2 linked regions of the Homo sapiens genome follow. The protein of the gene in region 2 interacts with the protein of the main gene of each other region in a biochemical or structural test. Each region holds a gene or a part of one and is shown on either strand. Other genes may lie near its edges.

Evidence for each region. The genes of interacting proteins can lie anywhere in the genome.
Region 1: the proteins of SLC8A1 (region 2) and S100A14 interact in a biophysical measurement, tested with the Homo sapiens proteins (one large-scale study listed by IntAct).

What each region holds. Positions count from the first base shown.
Region 1 is NC_000001.11:153,613,271-153,617,986, reverse strand, and holds S100A14 (protein S100-A14), read left to right. Parts: upstream 1-1,661; 5' UTR 1,662-1,692; exon of another isoform or gene 1,693-1,754; intron 1,755-2,050; 5' UTR 2,051-2,128; coding exon 2,129-2,158; intron 2,159-2,605; coding exon 2,606-2,752; intron 2,753-2,964; coding exon 2,965-3,102; 3' UTR 3,103-3,732; downstream 3,733-4,716. UniProt on the Homo sapiens protein: Modulates P53/TP53 protein levels, and thereby plays a role in the regulation of cell survival and apoptosis. Depending on the context, it can promote cell proliferation or apoptosis.
Region 2 is NC_000002.12:40,112,538-40,116,714, forward strand, and holds part of SLC8A1 (sodium/calcium exchanger 1 isoform A precursor), read right to left. Parts: intron 3,093-4,177; coding exon 2,716-3,092; 3' UTR 1-2,715. UniProt on the Homo sapiens protein: Mediates the exchange of one Ca(2+) ion against three to four Na(+) ions across the cell membrane, and thereby contributes to the regulation of cytoplasmic Ca(2+) levels and Ca(2+)-dependent cellular processes.

The DNA of each region.
Region 1 (4,716 bases), on a different chromosome or scaffold from region 2:
CTGATTAACCAGGATCCTCTCTGGCTGGGTGCTCAGGAACACTAGGGCCTCCTCCCCTTACCCTCTGGAGCAGTGGGGAAGCCAGAAGGAGGGGCCCGATGTTCTGCTCAAGGACCGTGGGGTGAGGGTGTGGTGGTGCCACCGGAGGCAGAACTTGCCTTGCCTTCCTGGCTTGAGGGGCATATGGTGTACACGGCCACCACCAGAGGGAGCAGGGGCGGGCATCTCGGTGACCAGCCTCCCAGGGCTGTCACTGCCTCACTGGCAGGCATCCATGCAGGGCAGCTATGAGTCCAGAGGAACCTTTAGGCTGAGGGAGCTCCCTGACCCTCCGTTAGAGAGCCCCAGACTGAGACCTCAGAGAGACTCCCAGACTGGGAATCCAAAGGGCCATTGGCAGAGACATTCAAGAGGGGCTCCTGCACTGAAGGGCTCCCTTACCGTGAGAAGCCCTGTGAGGAACCCCCTAGCCTGAGCCTCCTCCTGAGGAACCCAGGCTAAGTCACTCTCAGAGGAACCCACAGGCTGAGAGACCCTCAGAGGGACCTGCAGGTTGAAGCCCTTCAGAGGAACTCTCAGAATGAGACATTGTTGGAAGGTCCTCTCCATTGAGACACACAGGGCCCCAGGTTGAGAAGGTGACATGAGGAGGGATGTAGTGGGGTGTGCTCTGATCTCAGCGTTTAGGAAAGGATCCTGGGAACTTTGGCTCTGGGCCGCACCCCATCCTTGCCCTGACTCATGCCTACTGCTCTGCCCTTCTTCCTACCCCCTCCCAGTGACTTCAGGTTCTAGGTGTCTGGGCCTGGGCAGGTGAGGAGGGCCACTGGGGTTGGGCTCTCTGGGATGTCATTCTGGGTCCTGGATGGGGGGCTGTTGCTCTGCAGCTGGGTTAGGGAAGGCATGGGGCTCTGAGGGAGGGAGAGAGAAACACGTGGCCCGACCAGTTTGGAGTTGGTGTTAGCTGCCAAGCAGCTCAAGTGGGCCTTGCATTTGTGCACTCTGGGCCGCTGAGGGGAGCTGAAGGGAGGTCAGGCAAACACTCACTCAATCTGCCTCCCTCCATCAGGCTGCCCTTCTCTGGCTTCCTCCTGATCCAAGTTCTCTACATTCATCTCTCTGCCTCCAGGACTGGTAAAGGCTGGGCTCTGGGATCCAGGCAGGCTTGAGTGTCAGTATCCAAGCTGGGCCTGACTGGGAGAAGTGTGCGTGTGCGTGTGTGTGTGTGTGTGTGTGCACGTGAGAGAGAGAGAGAGACAGACAGACACACATGGAGGGTACAGAGGCTCCTGCTTCTCCTTCCTGGTCACAGATTCAGACCCCCTCTCCTTCCCTGCCCTGCAGTTCGCCAGGGCCCTTCCACTTCCTAGGGTGACCCCATGAGGTCTCGAAGTCCTCTCTGTCTCCCCAGCCTTCTCGCTTCTCTTTCTCTGTGACTCTGCATGCTGATCGGAGGCCAGGGGTTTCCCAGCCCCAGCCCTCTGTGGCTCCCTCCTCGTGGCAGGGTCATGGTAGGCTCTGGAACTCTGGCCAGCGGAGGGTGGGGCCCATAAAGCTGGCTCATAGCCCAGGCTGCTGCAATAGCAGGGGTGGCTTAGGCCCAGCCCCCTGCCTCCCCTCCCTTCCCCCAGGTATAAGAGCTGAGCTCAGGTGAGCTGGCTCCTCCTGTCTTGTCTCAGCGGCTGCCAACAGGTAAGGAAACCCAAGGCTTTTCACCCAAATATACTGCCTGCTGTCCAGAGGGCACACTTAGGGTAAGAGCTGGGGGATCAGATCCTGGAGGTTGGTGTGTGTGTTTCAAGCAGAGGTGGGTGGTTGGAGGAGGTGGAAAGAATTAAGCTAAGGTGAGTTCCAAGGGATTCCCCCTAGATGCGTTGGCCTGGGGGATATGACCTTGGCTCCTGAAGCCCAGGCGGGGCCTGGGCCTATGTGGTGTTGGTTTTGAACCCCTGGTGAGGCACAGAATATCTGAGATGGAGCCAAAGGGGGCAGCTGAGAAAGAAATGCTAGACTCTCTCCTCAGCTCAGGCCTACCCCCTCCTCTAAGCAGATCATGAGCCATCAGCTCCTCTGGGGCCAGCTATAGGACAACAGAACTCTCACCAAAGGACCAGACACAGTGGGCACCATGGGACAGTGTCGGTCAGCCAACGCAGAGGTGGGCTCATTCACTCCTGGCCTTTCTGCTCCCACACTCCTCTCCTTCACCCTGAGGGTCTATGTCCCCCCACTGACTTCTGCCCTTCACCTTGGCCTTGCCCTGCACCCCAGACCCTGTGAGTGAGATGTGAACCCTCTTCTGAGGCCCACACAGGGTGATGCAGATGGAGTCCTCCTGGGAAGAGGATGCCTGGGTGCATGCTGGGACCTGCTCTGCCTGCGGTGGGGGGTGTGGGGAGGGAAGCCTTCCCCAACCTGTAGCTGCTGTGGCCTGGAGGCCGAGCAGGGGGTGGGGGAGAGGGGCTAGATTCTGGGCTCTGGAGTGGGTGGGAGCTGTGTGCCTTCCAGCTGCCTTCTGCCCTGGGGGCTTTGCTAGGCTCCTGGAGAAGCAGGGTTTTGGGGTGCATGGAGCTTCACTGATGTTTGTGATGTCCCCTGCCCTCAGGATGCTCAGGAATTCAGTGATGTGGAGAGGGCCATTGAGACCCTCATCAAGAACTTTCACCAGTACTCCGTGGAGGGTGGGAAGGAGACGCTGACCCCTTCTGAGCTACGGGACCTGGTCACCCAGCAGCTGCCCCATCTCATGCCGGTATGGACGGAGCACACCCCACCTCAGCCAGTACCCTGACTTCCCAAGCAAGTGCTCCGGGACCCCACCCACACTGGCACTTGCAACCCCCAGCTCTTCCCCCTTGCCAGTGCTAGGTAGCCTCTGCTCCTGCTGTCTGCCCGTGGGCAGGGTGGGGTGGGAAGATTGGAAGGTGCTGCATCCCTGAGCCATGGTTTCTTCACTCCCCTCAGAGCAACTGTGGCCTGGAAGAGAAAATTGCCAACCTGGGCAGCTGCAATGACTCTAAACTGGAGTTCAGGAGTTTCTGGGAGCTGATTGGAGAAGCGGCCAAGAGTGTGAAGCTGGAGAGGCCTGTCCGGGGGCACTGAGAACTCCCTCTGGAATTCTTGGGGGGTGTTGGGGAGAGACTGTGGGCCTGGAGATAAAACTTGTCTCCTCTACCACCACCCTGTACCCTAGCCTGCACCTGTCCTCATCTCTGCAAAGTTCAGCTTCCTTCCCCAGGTCTCTGTGCACTCTGTCTTGGATGCTCTGGGGAGCTCATGGGTGGAGGAGTCTCCACCAGAGGGAGGCTCAGGGGACTGGTTGGGCCAGGGATGAATATTTGAGGGATAAAAATTGTGTAAGAGCCAAAGAATTGGTAGTAGGGGGAGAACAGAGAGGAGCTGGGCTATGGGAAATGATTTGAATAATGGAGCTGGGAATATGGCTGGATATCTGGTACTAAAAAAGGGTCTTTAAGAACCTACTTCCTAATCTCTTCCCCAATCCAAACCATAGCTGTCTGTCCAGTGCTCTCTTCCTGCCTCCAGCTCTGCCCCAGGCTCCTCCTAGACTCTGTCCCTGGGCTAGGGCAGGGGAGGAGGGAGAGCAGGGTTGGGGGAGAGGCTGAGGAGAGTGTGACATGTGGGGAGAGGACCAGCTGGGTGCTTGGGCATTGACAGAATGATGGTTGTTTTGTATCATTTGATTAATAAAAAAAAATGAAAAAAGTGAAACATGTTGTCTTGACTGGACACCCCCTCCCTGAGGGTCCACGGGTGAGAGGAGCTTGGGGGTGAAAGGCAAAGTCATTGGTAGGGTGGGGCACGTGGGGCTGGAGTGGTTGGCTGTGGAAGTGAATGGGGACTCACTTTTCCCTATGGGTTTGGGTTGAGGGTGGTACCAGGTCCAAAAGGGCAACATGGTCCTCTCTGAGGGACAGGCTCCTCTTTGCCAATGGGCGGGCCCTCTTATAGGAGAGGAGGGTATGTGTGCACACTTGGGGAAAAGGATATTAGTCCAGGTGTTCTGAGCCCTGGCTGGCACAACCAGGGAAATGGGGTGGGTGGGGGTGGGGGGCGGTTAGAAACAGGCTGACTGGCCTGAGTTTGAATCTCAGATCTGCCACTTATCATTGGAATTTTGGGCATGCTCTTAGTATCAGTTTCCTCATCTGTAAAATGGGGGATATGAATATTACTTCCACAGGATTGCCAGGAGGACAATGCCACACATCATGTAAAGCACTTACAGAGAGCCTGACACATGGTGAGTGCCCAGTGACCCAATATCATTCCCGCTGGAGTGGGCAAGTGGGCCCCTCTTTGGTTTCAGCTGCTGCCCTAGTGTAGGGAGGTCGAGCTGGCCAGTTTCCTTGGGTATCTTAGGGAAACGGTGGGGTGTGGGGAGTTTCCAGAGGAGTCTTCTGGTGTACATGAGGGATCTTAGGGCTGGGTCTCAGTAGAGCTGATGGGTCAGACTAGAGACAGAAGACCAGGGAGCCAGACAGGTCCCTGGCATCTGCCTTCTGATTTGAGCACAGAAGTCGGGCGTTACTCCTGAAACCCCAGTGGCAAGGAGGTTTCTGTGGCCAGTTAGGCTGGCCTGGAATGTTAACTGAACTTGTCTGTTGGGAGCCCCTGAAACTGGGATCCCAGTGACCCAGGTGAGAAAGGCAGGTGATAGTCCTTCCCTTCCTTTCTCTACCCTGTCAGGTTCTG
Region 2 (4,177 bases):
ATTGACATTCCTAATACAGCTAAAAAATGAGTGCAAAAATTTTTCTAATGTTTAAACAACTTATATTCCTTGAATATATTTACTTGGTGCTTCTAGGCTAGCTTTCCATTTAGCAATTCTCAAAAAAAAAAAAAATAAGGATGGGAAGGATGGGTTAGAATGACAAAGAATTGTAAAGTGTGGGCCATAGAAAAGTTCCATTGCCAACAAAGATAAAAGATGGGATACACTGGGCTTTCTCAGTGATCTGGATCACCAACATGATTGCCCTTCTTGGTTTAAAATGGAGAGATATATTTATCTGCAAGTCGGTCAAAGATAAAGAGGGTGGTTTTCCAAACATATGCCTTATGCTCTCTTAGTTAAAGAAATTCTTGGGTATAAATACAATTTGGACAATTGCTTTGATACAGTTTCAGTGTGTTTATGTTAAAAGAGTTTCATAATTGTTTTTTCTTGCAAGATAAAAATCTTTCCATATGGCTTTCTTCACTTTTACTCATGAAAATAGTAATCACATAAACTGTAACCCTTCTGAGGGCAGGGATCTAGACTGTTTTGTTCATGGCTTAGTCCCCAGAAAGTATCATACTACCTGGCACATTAAGTGGGTAACCAGCATTTAATTACTCATTCAGTCACCAAATGTTTATTAAATGAGGAAGGATCATGGTTACTGAGTGACAGAAGAAAAAATAAGTCTCAACAGCTTTAATTTATTAAGTATTTTTGAATCAATACAGAGGGCTAGGAATGTCTCCAGCCTGGGATTCCTTATAGACACAGAAGTCTCCGAGAGGTGACCAAAGTCATTCTATTATTTTTCTCATTAGTGGACTCACTACTTTGGAATGTTGGGTTTATCCATGTTCTTTGGTATTTTAACATAGAAACAGCTATTCTTTTTAAAGGGTTAAAAATATCCCAGTCCAATCCTCCTGGGAGGTACTAGTCTTATTTAATTGCCTTCTCTTTCAGCATAAGTAGAGGAGACAACACTTTTAAAGGCCCGTTGGTCACCCTGGCTTCTTTCTTACTCAGCAACTACTGATATAATCAAAGAGGACTAGACTGGACAGTGAAAGAAACAGGGCTCAAAATAGCCTTTTAAGTAAAAAAATAAAATGAACAAACCAGCACTATCTACCATCTGTGCCAGACAGTGCAGATGTGAAATAAATACTTTGCAGGGAGGGGTGTTGTGGAAAGGGTGGCTCTGAAAGCCTAGGCACATCCAACATATCAACGTCTCTATAAGGCCTTTCTCCTTGGCCTTCCTGAATTAATGGGTGATTTTTAGAGGCCTCTGATGTGTTCCACATGGCTAATTTTCCATGAAGATCTTTGTAGTTTGCCTGCTATCCTCTCAATAGCTTTAACTTCTCCCCACATGACAGTTATTGCTTCTTAGAAATGAATGTGCAGAACCGTGAACAATAATCCATTTTCTCCTTTTATCCCTAGTAATTAATCAAACTCAATAACAGCACAAAAGTAACAACTCAGGTGAAAAGAAAACTCACTTATGTCTTCAATGTCCAATCAACATTGCCAAATGGGAGAACAGTATGTACTATACTCTACTATATACAGATACTCTTTGTTTTGTTTTATTTGTTTTTCACCATGCACTGTGTAACAGGTATCACAACAACATTTCCGAACGGCACATGAAGAAGGAGCAAATGTTCAGTCATGACTGGAACAGGATTGTGCAAGCCATGGATGCCTTTGAAAATAAAACTGACAGACAATCCCAAGCAACGGCAACATGGGACTGAGACACATGTTAATGCAAATGGAAAACGATGATGTGCTTTTTGAATGGGGTTATTCTTACTGTTTGCATAGGGGATGGCAGGTGGACAGGAGGAACAGGGTTGGGATGGGGCACCTGGGGGCTTAGCTGGGCTGAATGCTGGAAGAAGGACCTTGCCAATCACAGTCCAGAGCTAAAGAGATAAGAAAGAAAGGATTTTGCACGTTCCTGGGAATCTAGGCACGTTTTCCTTGTACCTGTTAAACGAGACTGCCAGGTATCACATGTTTAAATATCAGACTATTTCTAGAACCATCGGATTTCCTGGCTCCATTCCACTTTTATGCTTCTTCTTGGAGGCAGCTTCACCTCCACTCACATTCCGGAGATAAGCATGAACTTTGGTAATACGATGAAGACATGCTTCTTTCTTCTTCCATGCCCAGATTTTTTCTTAATCCAAAATAAGTTTTAAAGTGATTGGGGGAGGTGAGGGGGAATACTAATGATTTAAATTTTTACCAAAACCCATTTACATTTGGATGGTTTCACTTTCCACAAAGAAAAGCAACAACCCTGACTCTCCCAAAAAAACAAAACAAAACAAAATAACAAAAATAAAGCCAAACATTAACTACCTCCCCAGCTCCACTGAAAACAAAACCAAAAACAAAACAAATCAAAGCCTTAAGGATTTATCAACCTGGAGAGAGTGCAGCCCTTCTAGACTGAGCTGCAAAGATGGCCCTGCCTCCATGCCTTGTTGAACATGATGATGCCCCTGGGAATGGGAGGTGATGGTTTTTTACTTCGGCCCTAGTACAGAGTATGCTCTTGAAGCTGGATTCCATCAGCAGGTAAGTGAACATGACAAATGTCAGTTTCCTCTGTCCATTATACATAATTTTTATGTATATATATGTATATATATAAATTTACTATATCTGATAGTTCCTTTAGAAGCCTTTTATGTGGCAGTAGGCCTCCAGGGAGGAGAAGAAAATGTACAAGAGCCATAGGAGCACAAAGAGGCAGGATGTGAGGAGCTTGGCAGTCCGGGGCCCACCCAGCTCACCTCCGATTTCTGGCCTCCGCCGATACAGCAGCACCCCCACATTGATGAAAGCAAAAATGGTGAAGAGAGTGACAGAGAAAGCTAGTGTGCCAGGGGACACTTTGAACTGTTCCCCATTGGCTGCGTGGTAGATGGCAGCGATGGACCAGGCCACACCGATTCCCAGGAAGACATTCACCGCGTTGCTGCCCGTGACGTTACCTATGGAGGCGTCTGCATACTGGTCCTGGGTGGCTGCCACTTTGCTGGCAAATGTGTCTGCAGAGGAAGAAGAGAAAGTCAATGACACTCAATCTTTTAGAGATGTCTTTGGAGTGCTGCAAGCTTCAGCTGTGTACTCTAGGACCCAACCCTTAATATAAACCCAGTGACCAAGAAATGGCTTTGATGTTCCTCTGAGTCAGACTCATGGGGTGAAAAGAACAGGATCTAGATATTGGGAGTTAAGGGTTCAGTGCTGGCTGTGTAATGGACTGAGCAAGTGATCTTGGTCAAGTTTTGTATCCACAGATACTGCAGTTCTTTGTAATATTGACCTTGCAGGGCAGCATTTTTTCAGAAAGTAGTCACAGCTCACCTACATCAGAATCAAGTGGGGTCCTTTCAAAGAGTGAGTATTGCAAGGTGCCATGCGGCTGTGCTGGTCATAATGACAGCGGCCCAGGAATCTATTTTAACAGTATCCTAAAAGATTCTAGGTCACTAAAGTTTCGGAACAGCTGCTGGAGGGTATTACTAAAAGATGCTGTATCAGCAGCTCTAGTTTATAGATGAGAAAGTTAAGATGTCGGGAGAGATTTTTCAAGATTCAAGAGCAAGCCAATAGTGGAATTGAAAACAATTGAACTATAATAGAGTAGCTGACATTTGCTTAGAGCCTTAAGAATAAAAAAGCAGATTCAGCTATATTACTGCATTGATTGTGATGGTACTTTTTTATTATTATTTTTTATTATTATACTTTAAGTTTTAGGGTACATGTGCACATTGTGCAGGTTAGTTACATATGTATACATGTGCCATGCTGGTGTGCTGCACCCACTAACTCGTCATCTAGCATTAGGTATATCTCCCAGTGCTATCCCTCCCCCAACCCCCACCCCACAGCAGTCCCCAGAGTGTGATGTTCCCCTTCCTGTGTCCATGTGATCTCACTGTTCAATTCCCACCTATGAGTGAGAATATGCGGTGTTTGGTTTTTTGTTCTTGCGATAGTTTACTGAGAATGATGGTTATGAGGTGAGGGAACGAGGCTTAGAGATGACAAGTAGTGGATGCAATATCACAACTAGGAAAAAAACATGTTAGGGCTACAGCTCCTGCCTCATGTCTTCAAAACGAAT